Linked DNA regions of Homo sapiens: region 2 is linked to region 1. Evidence: fine-mapped QTL for protein levels in blood plasma. A gene starts in region 1. The other region holds a variant in brackets. All regions are shown on one strand. Distances are from middle to middle.

Region 1 (2,193 bases):
TGAGAACGGCCCGGGCCTTGGCGTACGGCAGGGGACGACCTGGGATGGGGGCAGCGGGCGGCGGCGCAGGGAGTGGGCCGGGGGCCGGTGTGCGCGGGCGGGACGGGGCCCGGGGTCGGGAGACCACCGCTCGGAAGATGGGGCCGGGAGAGGCCGCCGTCGCAGCGCAGAGGGCACCGGCGGGGAGACGCGAGGACGCGGGGCCGGGAACACGGACGCCGGAGTAGAAGCGCGGGGGGCGCGGGCTGGAGCGGGGGCGGGGACGCCGGGGTCGGGGGCGGTGCGGGTTTGAGGGGAGGGGGCGGGGCGGGTCCTTCCCTGGGGGGGTGGGGAGAGGGGGCGGGGGCCCATGTGACCGGCTCAGACCGGTTCTGGAGACAAAAGGGGCCGCGGCGGCCGGAGCGGGACGGGCCCGGCGCGGGAGGGAGCGAAGCAGCGCGGGCAGCGAGCGAGTGAGCGCGCGGCGGCCCCTGGTCCGCCCGGCCGCGGCCGATCTAGGGGCTGGGGGCTGGAGGCGGGGGTGGGGGTCTGAGCTGCGTCCTGGGCTCGAGGCGTCCCCCGGGGAGTCGCCTCTTAGCGGTGCGTCCGGGCTAGCGGCGAGGGGCCGCCCCAAGTCTTCCCACCGCCGCCACCTTAGCAGCCCGACTTGGGGCCTGGAAAGTGGAGCACGCGGAGGTGGGAGGGCCCTGCACGCGGCCCCCGGTGGGGAAGGGGACGGGCCAGGGATTCAGACTCGGGCTCTCCCCTCAGGATGCAGCACCGAGGCTTCCTCCTCCTCACCCTCCTCGCCCTGCTGGCGCTCACCTCCGCGGTCGCCAAAAAGAAAGGTGATGGGGGATGATCGAAGGAGGGCTGGGGACGGGCAGGCGAGGCCCCTCCACTTCTGGGCTGGGCCGCCTGGGTTCCTAGCCTGGAACCCCAGGAAGGCGGCTCCCGAGGGAGTCTCCCCGTGCCCCAGTCCTGAACTCTGTTCCTCGCGCGTTGTAGATAAGGTGAAGAAGGGCGGCCCGGGGAGCGAGTGCGCTGAGTGGGCCTGGGGGCCCTGCACCCCCAGCAGCAAGGATTGCGGCGTGGGTTTCCGCGAGGGCACCTGCGGGGCCCAGACCCAGCGCATCCGGTGCAGGGTGCCCTGCAACTGGAAGAAGGAGTTTGGAGGTGAGGCGGGGCGCAGTCAGAGGGCAGGAGACGGGGGGCACAGCCTCGCCGAAGCCTGGGCGGACCCTTGGCGGAGGGCGGGGCCGCGGGCCGCGCAGCGCTGACCTGGGCCGCTCTCTCGCCAGCCGACTGCAAGTACAAGTTTGAGAACTGGGGTGCGTGTGATGGGGGCACAGGCACCAAAGTCCGCCAAGGCACCCTGAAGAAGGCGCGCTACAATGCTCAGTGCCAGGAGACCATCCGCGTCACCAAGCCCTGCACCCCCAAGACCAAAGCAAAGGCCAAAGGTCAGCGAAAGGAGAAGGGGGTGGGGCTGTCGCGGGGGGCTGCCCCCCCCCCCCCCCGCCTGTGAGGGGACAATTCCAAGTTAAACCTTAAGTTTTGAGTCCTGGCCAGTGGCTTCCTGACATCGCCTCACTTGGCTTCCCTGCCTGGAAAAGTCTGAAGATGGGCACTACAAGAGAGGCCGCAGGTGATGCTGGGGACATAAATCCTCCCTGGCCCAAATAGGGACCAACTCAAACTACTCCATTGGAGCATCTGGCTTAGGACCCAGGGAGAGTGTCCTGGAACGGCTTGCCTTTGTCAGCTCTCCAGCCACGGGCAGCATTTGGTCAGCTCTGCCCTTTCTAGTGTTGGGAGGAGGTCAAGGCCCACCCTGGGCCTCTCAGCTCACTCGTGACTCAGCCCAGCGAGGCCAGCAGGGCAGGGGTGAATCTGCCCGCTTCTCAGGTGAGGAGGCTGAGGATGCCCAGGGCTGCTGTGACCAGGACTAGGACTGGAAACTTGAAGGTTTTCTGATCCCAAGTGGAAATAGGAAGCTGGGGATGTCCCATGTCCACATCACAATGGCTGCCCCATCCCCTGCTTCCGAGTCAGCTGATTGGAAACCACTAGGGGGCAGAATCTTCTCCTTCCCTGATGCCCGGGTGTTTGTGGAGCCGGCGGTCTGCAATGGGTCAGCCTAACTGCTGATATGGTATTAATATTTCTTTCTTGTTTTACAGCCAAGAAAGGGAAGGGAAAGGACTAGACGCC
Region 2 (8,535 bases), 2.2 Mb after region 1:
CATGGTTGGTGGAATGTAAATTGATACAGCCATTATAGAAGACACTATGGAGGATAATACTACCATATGATCCGGCAATCCCACTACTCGGTATGTATCCAAAGAAAATGAAATTAGTATCTTGAAGACATACCTGGGCTCCCATATGTACTGCAGCATTATTCATAATCACCAAGATATGGAAACAACTTAGATGTCCATCGACAGATGAATGGATAAAGGCAATGTGATATCTATATGTCTGTCTATCTATCTATCTATCTATCTATCATCTATCTATCTATCTATCTATCTATCTATCTATCTATCTATCTCTATCATCTATCTATCATCAATCATCTATCTAATGTACACATGCACACTTATACTAACATTCTGCTATTTTTGACAATATGAATGAACCTGGAAGGCTTAATAACCTCTTTGTTTTATTTTGTTTTTAATTGACAAACAGTAATTGTGTGTATTTGTGGAGTGCAGATGATGTTTTTATATCATATGTGATAGCATAGATGTACCTAGAGGACATTATGCTAAGTGAAATGATTTCTTGAATAGATATTTAGTGGACTGATTTTCAGTCTTTATTATTTATTTTCTTTTCTTTTTTTTATTATACTTTAAGTTTTAGGGTACATGTGCACATTGTGCAGGTTAGTTACATATGTATACATGTGCTGTGCTGGTGCGCTGCACCCACTAACCTGTCATCTAGCATTAGGTATATCTCCCAATGCTATCCCTCCCCCCTCCCCCAACCCCACAACAGTCCCCAGAGTGTGATATTCCCCTTCCTGTGTCCATGTGATCTCATTGTTCAATTCCCACCTATGAGTGAGAATATGCGGTGTTTGGTTTTTTGTTCTTGTGATAGTTTACTGAGAATGATGATTTCCAATTTCATCCATGTCCCTACAAAGGACATGAACTCATCATTTTTTATGGCTGCATAGTATTCCATGGTGTATATGTGCTACATTTTCTTAATCCAGTCTATCATTGTTGGACATTTGGGTTGGTTCCAAGTCTTTGCTATTGTGAATAATGCCGCAATGTCCAAAACACCAAAAGCAATGGCAACAAAAGACAAAATTGACAAATGGGATCTAATTAAAATAAAGAGCTTCTGCACAGCAAAAGAAACTACCATCAGAGTGAACAGGCAACCTACAAAATGGGAGAAAATTTTCGCAATCTACTCATCTGACAAAGGGCTAATATCCAGAATCTACAATGAACTCAAACAAATTTACAAGAAAAGAACAAACAACCCCATCAAAAAGTGGGCGAGGGACATGAACAGACACTTCTCAAAAGAAGACATTTATGCAGCCAAAAGACACATGAAAAAATGCTCATCATCACTGGCCATCAGAGAAATGCAAATCAAAACCACTATGAGATACCATCTCACACCACTTAGAATGGCAATCATTAAAAAGTCAGGAAACAACAGGTGCTGGAGAGGATGTGGAGAAATAGGAACACTTTTACACTGTTGGTGGGACTGTAAACTAGTTCAACCATTGTGGAAGTCAGTGTGGCGATTTCTCAGGGATCTAGAACTAGAAATACCATTTGACCCAGCCATCCCATTACTGGGTATATACCCAAAGGACTATAAATCATGCTGCTATAAAGACACATGCACACGTATGTTTATTGCGGCATTAGTCTTTATTATTTTCAAGCAAATACAAGTAATATTTTAGCTGAGACTTACAAGCTTTGATATTGTTGTAGTTTCATTATTATTAGGCCCAAATATTTTCTAACTTCTGTGATTTATTTTTCAATGGATTATTTAGGAGTGATTTGTTTAATGTTGAGCCATAGAAAATTTCTGGCTAATTTTAGTTTTTCATTTTTTAGCTGATTTTCTTGTTGTTCAGTGACATATTTTATTTTGATGACTATTTGAAATTCATTGAGAGTTGCTTTATGAACCAGCATATAATTGACTTTGGAAAATGTTTTATATGCTCTTGAAAAGAATGTGCATTTTGCAGCTGTTGTATGTGATCCTCTCATATGTCACTGCATCAGATTTATTAATGGTTTTGTTTAAACCTTAAATACCTTTATAAATTTTTTGTGTGTATATTCTAGCACTTAGAGTTGTGCTAAAATTTTCCTGTTATTGCTGATTTGCCTATTTCTCCTTTTAGGTCAGCCTGTTTTTCAAAAATAACATAAAGTTGTGCCAATTTATCATTTTATTCGTGTTACTAATTTTTGGCATTACAAACATTTATTTCTGGCAATATTTCATGCATGGAAGTTTGGTTTTGTCTGATATTAGCATGGAAATAATGTTCTTTTTGTCAGAACTTATGCAGTTTCTTCTATTATTTTATTTTCACTTTCTATCCTGTTATTTAGTATGTTTCTCTTATAAGGCTCTTACCATTGTGTTATGTTTCTTAAATAGGAGAAATTTGCTCATTTAAAAGGATAAAATTAATTATGTATTGAATATAAATCCCCACTTTTTTCTTGGTTTTGTATTTATTGATGTTACATATGATTAATATTCATGTTATTTATTGCTATATTTCTTCTTTCAATTAGTCTTCCATCTTTCCTGCATTTACTTTTTTCCATTTCAGAGGTTTTTCCTTCTTCCTAGAGATCATTCTTCTTTTTTTTTATTATACTTTAAGTTTGAGGGTACAAGTGCACAAAGTGCAGGTTTATTACATATATATACATATGCCATGTTGTTGTGCTGCACCCAGTAACTCGTCATTTAACATTAGTAATCTCTCCTAATGCTATCCCTCCTCCCTCCCCCCATCCCATAACAGGCCTCAGTGTGTGATGTTCCCCTTCCTGTGTCCATGTGTACCCATTGTTCAATTCCCTCCTATGAGTGAGAACATATAGTGTTTGGTTTTTTGTCCTTGTGATAGTTTGCTTAGAATGAAGGTTTCCAGTTTCATCCATGTCCCTACAAAGGACATGAACTCATCCTTTTCTATGGCTGCATAGTATTCCATCGTGTATATGTGCCACATTTTCTTAATCCAGTCTATCATTATTGGACATTTGGGTTGGTTCAAGTCTTTGCTATTGTGAATAGTGCCACAATAAACATACGTGTGCATGTTTCTTTATAGCAATATGATTTATAATCCTTTGGGTATATACCCAGTAATGGGATGGCTGGGTCAAATGGTATTTCTAGTTCTAGATCCCTGAGGAATTGCCACACTGACTTCCACAATGGTTGAACTAGTTTACAGTACCACCAACAGTGTGAAAGTGTTCCTATTTCTCCACATCCTCTCCAGCACCTGTTGTTTCCTGACTTTTTAATGATTGCCATTCTAAGTGGTGTGAGATGGTATCTCATTGTGGTTTTGATTAGCATTTCTCTGATGGCCAGTGATGATGAGCATTTTTTCATGTGTCTTTTGGCTGCATAAATGTCTTCTTTTGAGAGGTGTCTGTTCATATCCTTCACCCACTTTTTGATGGGATTGTTTGTTTTTTTCTTATAAATTTGTTTGAGTTCATTGTAGGTGGAAGTTCTGGCCAGGGCAATCAGGCAGGAGAAAGAAATAAAGAGTATTCAATTAGGAAAAGAGGAAGTGAAATTGTCTCTGTTTGCAGATGACATGATTGTATGTCTAGAAAACCCCATTGTCTCAGCCCAAAATCTCCTAAAGCTGATAAACAAATTCAGCAATGTCTCAGGATACAAAATCAATGTAAAGAAATCACAAGCATTCTTATACACCAACAACAGACAAACAGAGAGCCAAATCATGAGTGAACTCCCATTCACAATTGCTTCAAAGAGAATAAAATACCTAGGAATCCAACTTACAAGGGATGTGAAGGACCTCTTCAAGGAGAACTACAAACAACTGCTCAATGAAATAAAAGAGGATACAAACAAATGGAAGAACCTTCCATGCTCATAGGTAGGAAGAATCAATATCCTGAAAATGGCCACGCTGCCCAAGGTAATTTATAGATTCAATGCCATCCCTATCAAGCTACCAATGACTTTCTTCACAGAATTGGAAAAAACTACTTTAAAGTTCATATGGAACCAAAAAAGAGCCCGCATTGCCAAGTCAATCCTAAGCCAAAAGAACAAAGCCGGAGGCATCATGCTACCTGACTTCAAACTATACTACAAGGCTACAGTAACCAAAACAGCATGGTACTGATACCAAAACAGAGATATAGACCAATGGAACAGAGCAGAGCCCTCAGAAATAATACCACACATCTAAAACTATCTGATCTTTGACTAACCTGACAAAAACAAGGAATGAG[G/A]AAAGGATTCCGTATTTAACAAATGTTGCTGGGAAAACTGGCTAGCCATATGTAGAAAGCTGAAACTGGATCCCTTCCTTACACCTTATACAAAAATTAATTCAAGATGGATTAAAGACTTAAATGTTAGACCTAAAAGCATAGAAACCCTAGAAGAAAACCCAGGCAATACCATTCAGGACATAGGCATGGGCAAGGACTTCATGTCTAAAACACCAAAAGCAATGGCAACCAAAGCCAAAATTGACAAATGGGATCTCATTAAACTAAAGAGCTTCTGCACAGCAAAAGAAACTACCACCAGAGTTAACAGGCACCCTACAGAATGGGAGAACATTTTTGCAATCTACTCATCTGACAAATGGCTACTATCCAGAATCTACAATGAACTCAAACAAATTTACAAGAAAAAGACAAACAACCCCATCAAAAAGTGGGTAAAGGATATGAACAGACAGTTCTCAAAAGAAGACATTTATGCAGCCAAAAGATGCATGAAAAAATGCTCATCATCACTGGCCATCAGAGAAATGCAAATCAAAACCACAATGAGATACCATCTCTTACCAGTTAGAATGGTGATCATTAAAAAGTCAGGAAACAACAGGTGCTGGAGAGGATGTGGAGAAATAGAAACACTTTTACACTGTTGGTGGGACTGTAAACTAGTTCAAGCATTGTAGAAGACAGTGTGGCAATTCCTCAGGGATCTAAAAGTAGAAATACCATTTGATCCAGCCATTGCATTACTGGGTATATACCCAAAGCATTATAAACCATGCTGCTATAAAGACACATGCACACGTATGTTTATTGTGGCACTATTCACAATAGCAAAGACTTGGAACAAACCCAAATGTGCAATGATGACAGACTGGATTAAGAAAATGTAGCAGATATACACCATGGAATACTTTGCAGTCATAGAAAAGGATGAGTTCAAGTCCTTTGTAGGGACATGGATGAAACTGGAAACCATCATTCTCAGCAAACTATCACAAGGACAAAAAACCAAACACCGCATGTTGTTACTCACAGGTGGGAATTGAACAATGGAACACTTGAACACAGGAAGAGGACCATCACACACCGGGGTCTGTTGTGGGGTGGTGGCATGGTGGAGGGATAGCATTAGGGGATATACCTAATGTAAATGACAAGTTAATGGGTGCAGCACACTAACATGGCACATGCATACATATGTAACAAACCTGCAAGTTGTGCAAAACTGTGTGAAATACAATATTATAGAGGTTTTTGTTATTATGGAATTTTATCTTTAGAAAATATCATGTTTTAGGCAACTCTGTTAAATCACTGTTTTTTTTTCTATTAAAATATTAAATTAGTAGTTTGCATTGAAAGCCTAGTGATGCTTTTAGTTTTTAAAGTATAATTTTTTTTTTGAGATGGAGTCTTGGTCTGTCTCCCAGCCTGGAGTGCAATGGTGTGATCTCACCTCATTGCAACCTCTGTCTCCCAGGTTCACATGATTCTCCTGCCTCGGCTTCCCGAGTAGCTGGGATTACAGATGCCCACCACCATGCCCAGCTAACCTTTGTATTCCTAGTAGAAATGGGGTTTCACCAGGTTGGCCAGGGTGGTCTTGAACTCCTGACCTCAAGTGACCCACCCACCTTGGCCTCCCAAAGTGCTGGGATTACAGGCATGAGCCACTGCGCCTGGCCTAAAGTATAATATTTTTAGTTACTTAAACTGTAGAGGTAGTTCACATACCCTATTTTTTATAAGTAAACGTTTAAATTGTCAAAAGGATAATCCTGTTGAAATCTAGTTTTATGATGTAAGAGGGAAAAGGCACTAAATATTGCAGCAAGTAAGGTGTAAAAAAACCAGAATTGGCTATAGACTACATTATTCCCTTGTGTTCTTCAGCAGGTGTGTCTCTATCAGTCTATTGCTTCAACAATGCCAGAACTCTGAAATCATCTGGAAGTGGTAATATGATGGTTCATATGGAGTGTTCATCACAGCTGGCTTCTGGAGACAGCTCAAACTCTCTCTGCACACGTCCTCTTCCACTGCCAGATCTATGTAAATGGAATCATCCTATCTACATTTGAGGTTCAGTAATTCTGCAGTTTTCCTCAGCAGCGCATAATTGAAAGTTTGGGTTTGTATCTCTACTTGTCCCACTGTTATCTGTAATTTAAGTTTGTCCTTAACCATCAGATCTAGAGACTCTGAGAAACAATGTGTTTTTTTTTTCTTTTGAAGTATCTTTTTTTTTTTTTTAATACTAGGATGTTCTGTGTTTGTTAAGGCTACCTCCGAAAGCCTCCTGGGTCACCTCAGAGACCTATAGGACGTTGCACTTTCTGTATTTTGTCACTAAAAGGAATCTTTCTGAAGAACATTTTAAAAGAATACAGCCTCACTTAACTATCCCATTAATCTTATCGCTTGTGAAAACTCATTTATTAATTACAGTTTCCTTGTTTTTCATTTTAGCCTTCTTTTCATTTCCTGAGCTCTTTCTTATGGTGGGTCCAACTTTTTCACTGTAATTCTGCTTGCTTATCATCAAAGTACATTTGGCCACTGGTAAAATTACTATTCATATAATTAAATCATTAATTTATAAGGCATACAATTTTATTGTGTGCCTCCAAAACGTTTTCCTGAATTACAGGTATCTTATCCCTTTTTTTCCTGGAGTATGTCTGTAAATCTTTTCAAGTTGACAAAGATCTGCATGATTTGTTCTGATCCTATATTAACAATGTAGCATTCAAGAACACTAATTATAGCTATCATTTATTGAGGACTTACCAGGTGCCAGCCAGTGTTCCAGGCATTTTACTTTGTTTTAATAAAACAACAACTCTAAGAGGTAAGGACTATTGGGATCTCCATTCTAAAAATGATGAAAGTAAAGGGCAGAGAGTGTTAGTAAATGACCCAAAGTCTCATAAAAAACGGTGAACCTGAGTGAGATAGTTCAGAAGATGTTATTCATGGTGCTACCCAGATCATATTATAAAGATACCACAAGTACAAACACAAAGGACTAAATCTATGTCAATTTATTTATTTAGAGTTGCTTACCACCACCAGAGAGTGTTTCTTGAGACTAAGAACCTGTTGCCTATTTATCGTAGCTGATTTCTGTGCCCAGAAAAATATTTTTAATAAGAAGTTATTAAATGTATGAATGGCTGTTGGGACTTTAATTCTTCTTCTGTATAGAATATTCACTAAACTTAGTGGTAGAAATCTTAACCTCTGTCTGAATCTAAAATGTTTGAGGAGAAGTAGAATTGTCAAGGAAAAAGGGGCTCTTTGATGAGGAACTCAAATTTGAGTTCCTAAATATTTGTTGTGTGTAAATCTCTATTCAGGATACAACAACGAAGACATGCTCTGTGACACAATTGATGTAATCATATTCCTGTTCACTATTTCATTACAGGTCCTGTTCTCCTGAGCTCTCACCTCTGATACAAGCCTGAAAAAAGAGTAAATGAGACAAAATAACAGTATTACAGAATTTGTCTTCCTGGGCTTCTCTCAGGATCCTGATGTGCAAAATGCATTATTTGTCATGTTTTTACTCACATACATTGTGTCAGTGGTGGGGAACCTACTCATTGTCATGACTATTATTGCCAGCCCTTCCTTGGGCTCCCCAGTGTACTTCTTCCTCACCTGCCTGTCATTTATAGAGGCTGTGTATTCCACCACCATTTCTCCTGTATTGATTGTCGACTTCCTCTGTGATAAAAAGACTATTTCCTTCCGAGCTTGCATGGGCCAGCTGTTTATAGACCACTTGTTTGGTGGTGCAGATCTTTCTTCTGGTGATGATGGCCTGGGATCGCTACATGGCCATCTGTAAGCCACTGCACTATTTGACCATCATGAATCAACAGGTTTGCATCCTTCTGTTTGTGTTGGCCATGACTGGAGGTTTTGTGCATTCTGTGTTTCAAATTGTTGTTGTATACTGTCTCCCTTTCTGTGGCCCGAATGCCATTGACCATTTTTACTGTGATATGTACCCATTATTGGAACTGGCATGCACTGACACCTACTTTATAGGTCTCACTGTGGTTTTCAATGGTGGAGCAATCTGTATGGTCACCTTCACCCTTCTACTAATCTCATATAGGGTCATCCTAAACTCCCTTAAAACTTACAGTCAGGAAAGGAGGCATAAAGCCCTGTCTACCTGCAGATCCCACATTACCGTGGTTGTCCTGTTTTTTGTTCCCTGTATTTTCA

Alleles and levels. Positions count from the first base shown, and alleles are read on the strand shown. Strength reflects both the effect of a copy and how common the allele is.
With allele G in place of A in region 2, the plasma level of the protein whose gene starts at base 363 in region 1 is lower (moderate association).

Evidence for each region. A credible set is the group of variants that fine-mapping cannot tell apart. PIP is the posterior inclusion probability: the model's chance that the variant is causal. The UK Biobank Pharma Proteomics Project read protein levels with antibody pairs (Olink). The fine-mapping took linkage between variants from a reference panel, not from the people measured, so its PIPs are less certain.
Region 2: its variant is the best candidate, but not a certain one, in a credible set for the plasma level of the MDK protein (UK Biobank, PIP 0.79).

The regions. Positions count from the first base shown.
Region 1 is chr11:46,381,307-46,383,499 of GRCh38, forward strand. MDK (midkine) reads left to right here and starts at 363. Exons shown (of 5, transcript NM_002391.6): 1 at 363-452; 2 at 751-827; 3 at 988-1,155; 4 at 1,281-1,442; 5 at 2,163-2,193. The coding sequence starts at 752. The coding sequence ends at 2,188. RefSeq lists silencers at 1-67, 498-607, 1,028-1,077, 1,053-1,347.
Region 2 is chr11:48,571,662-48,580,196 of GRCh38, forward strand. It overlaps the pseudogene OR4A45P. Among named protein-coding and RNA genes, the nearest start is that of OR4A47, 87 kb to the left of the region's middle. The variant G/A (reference allele first, on the strand shown) is at 4,291.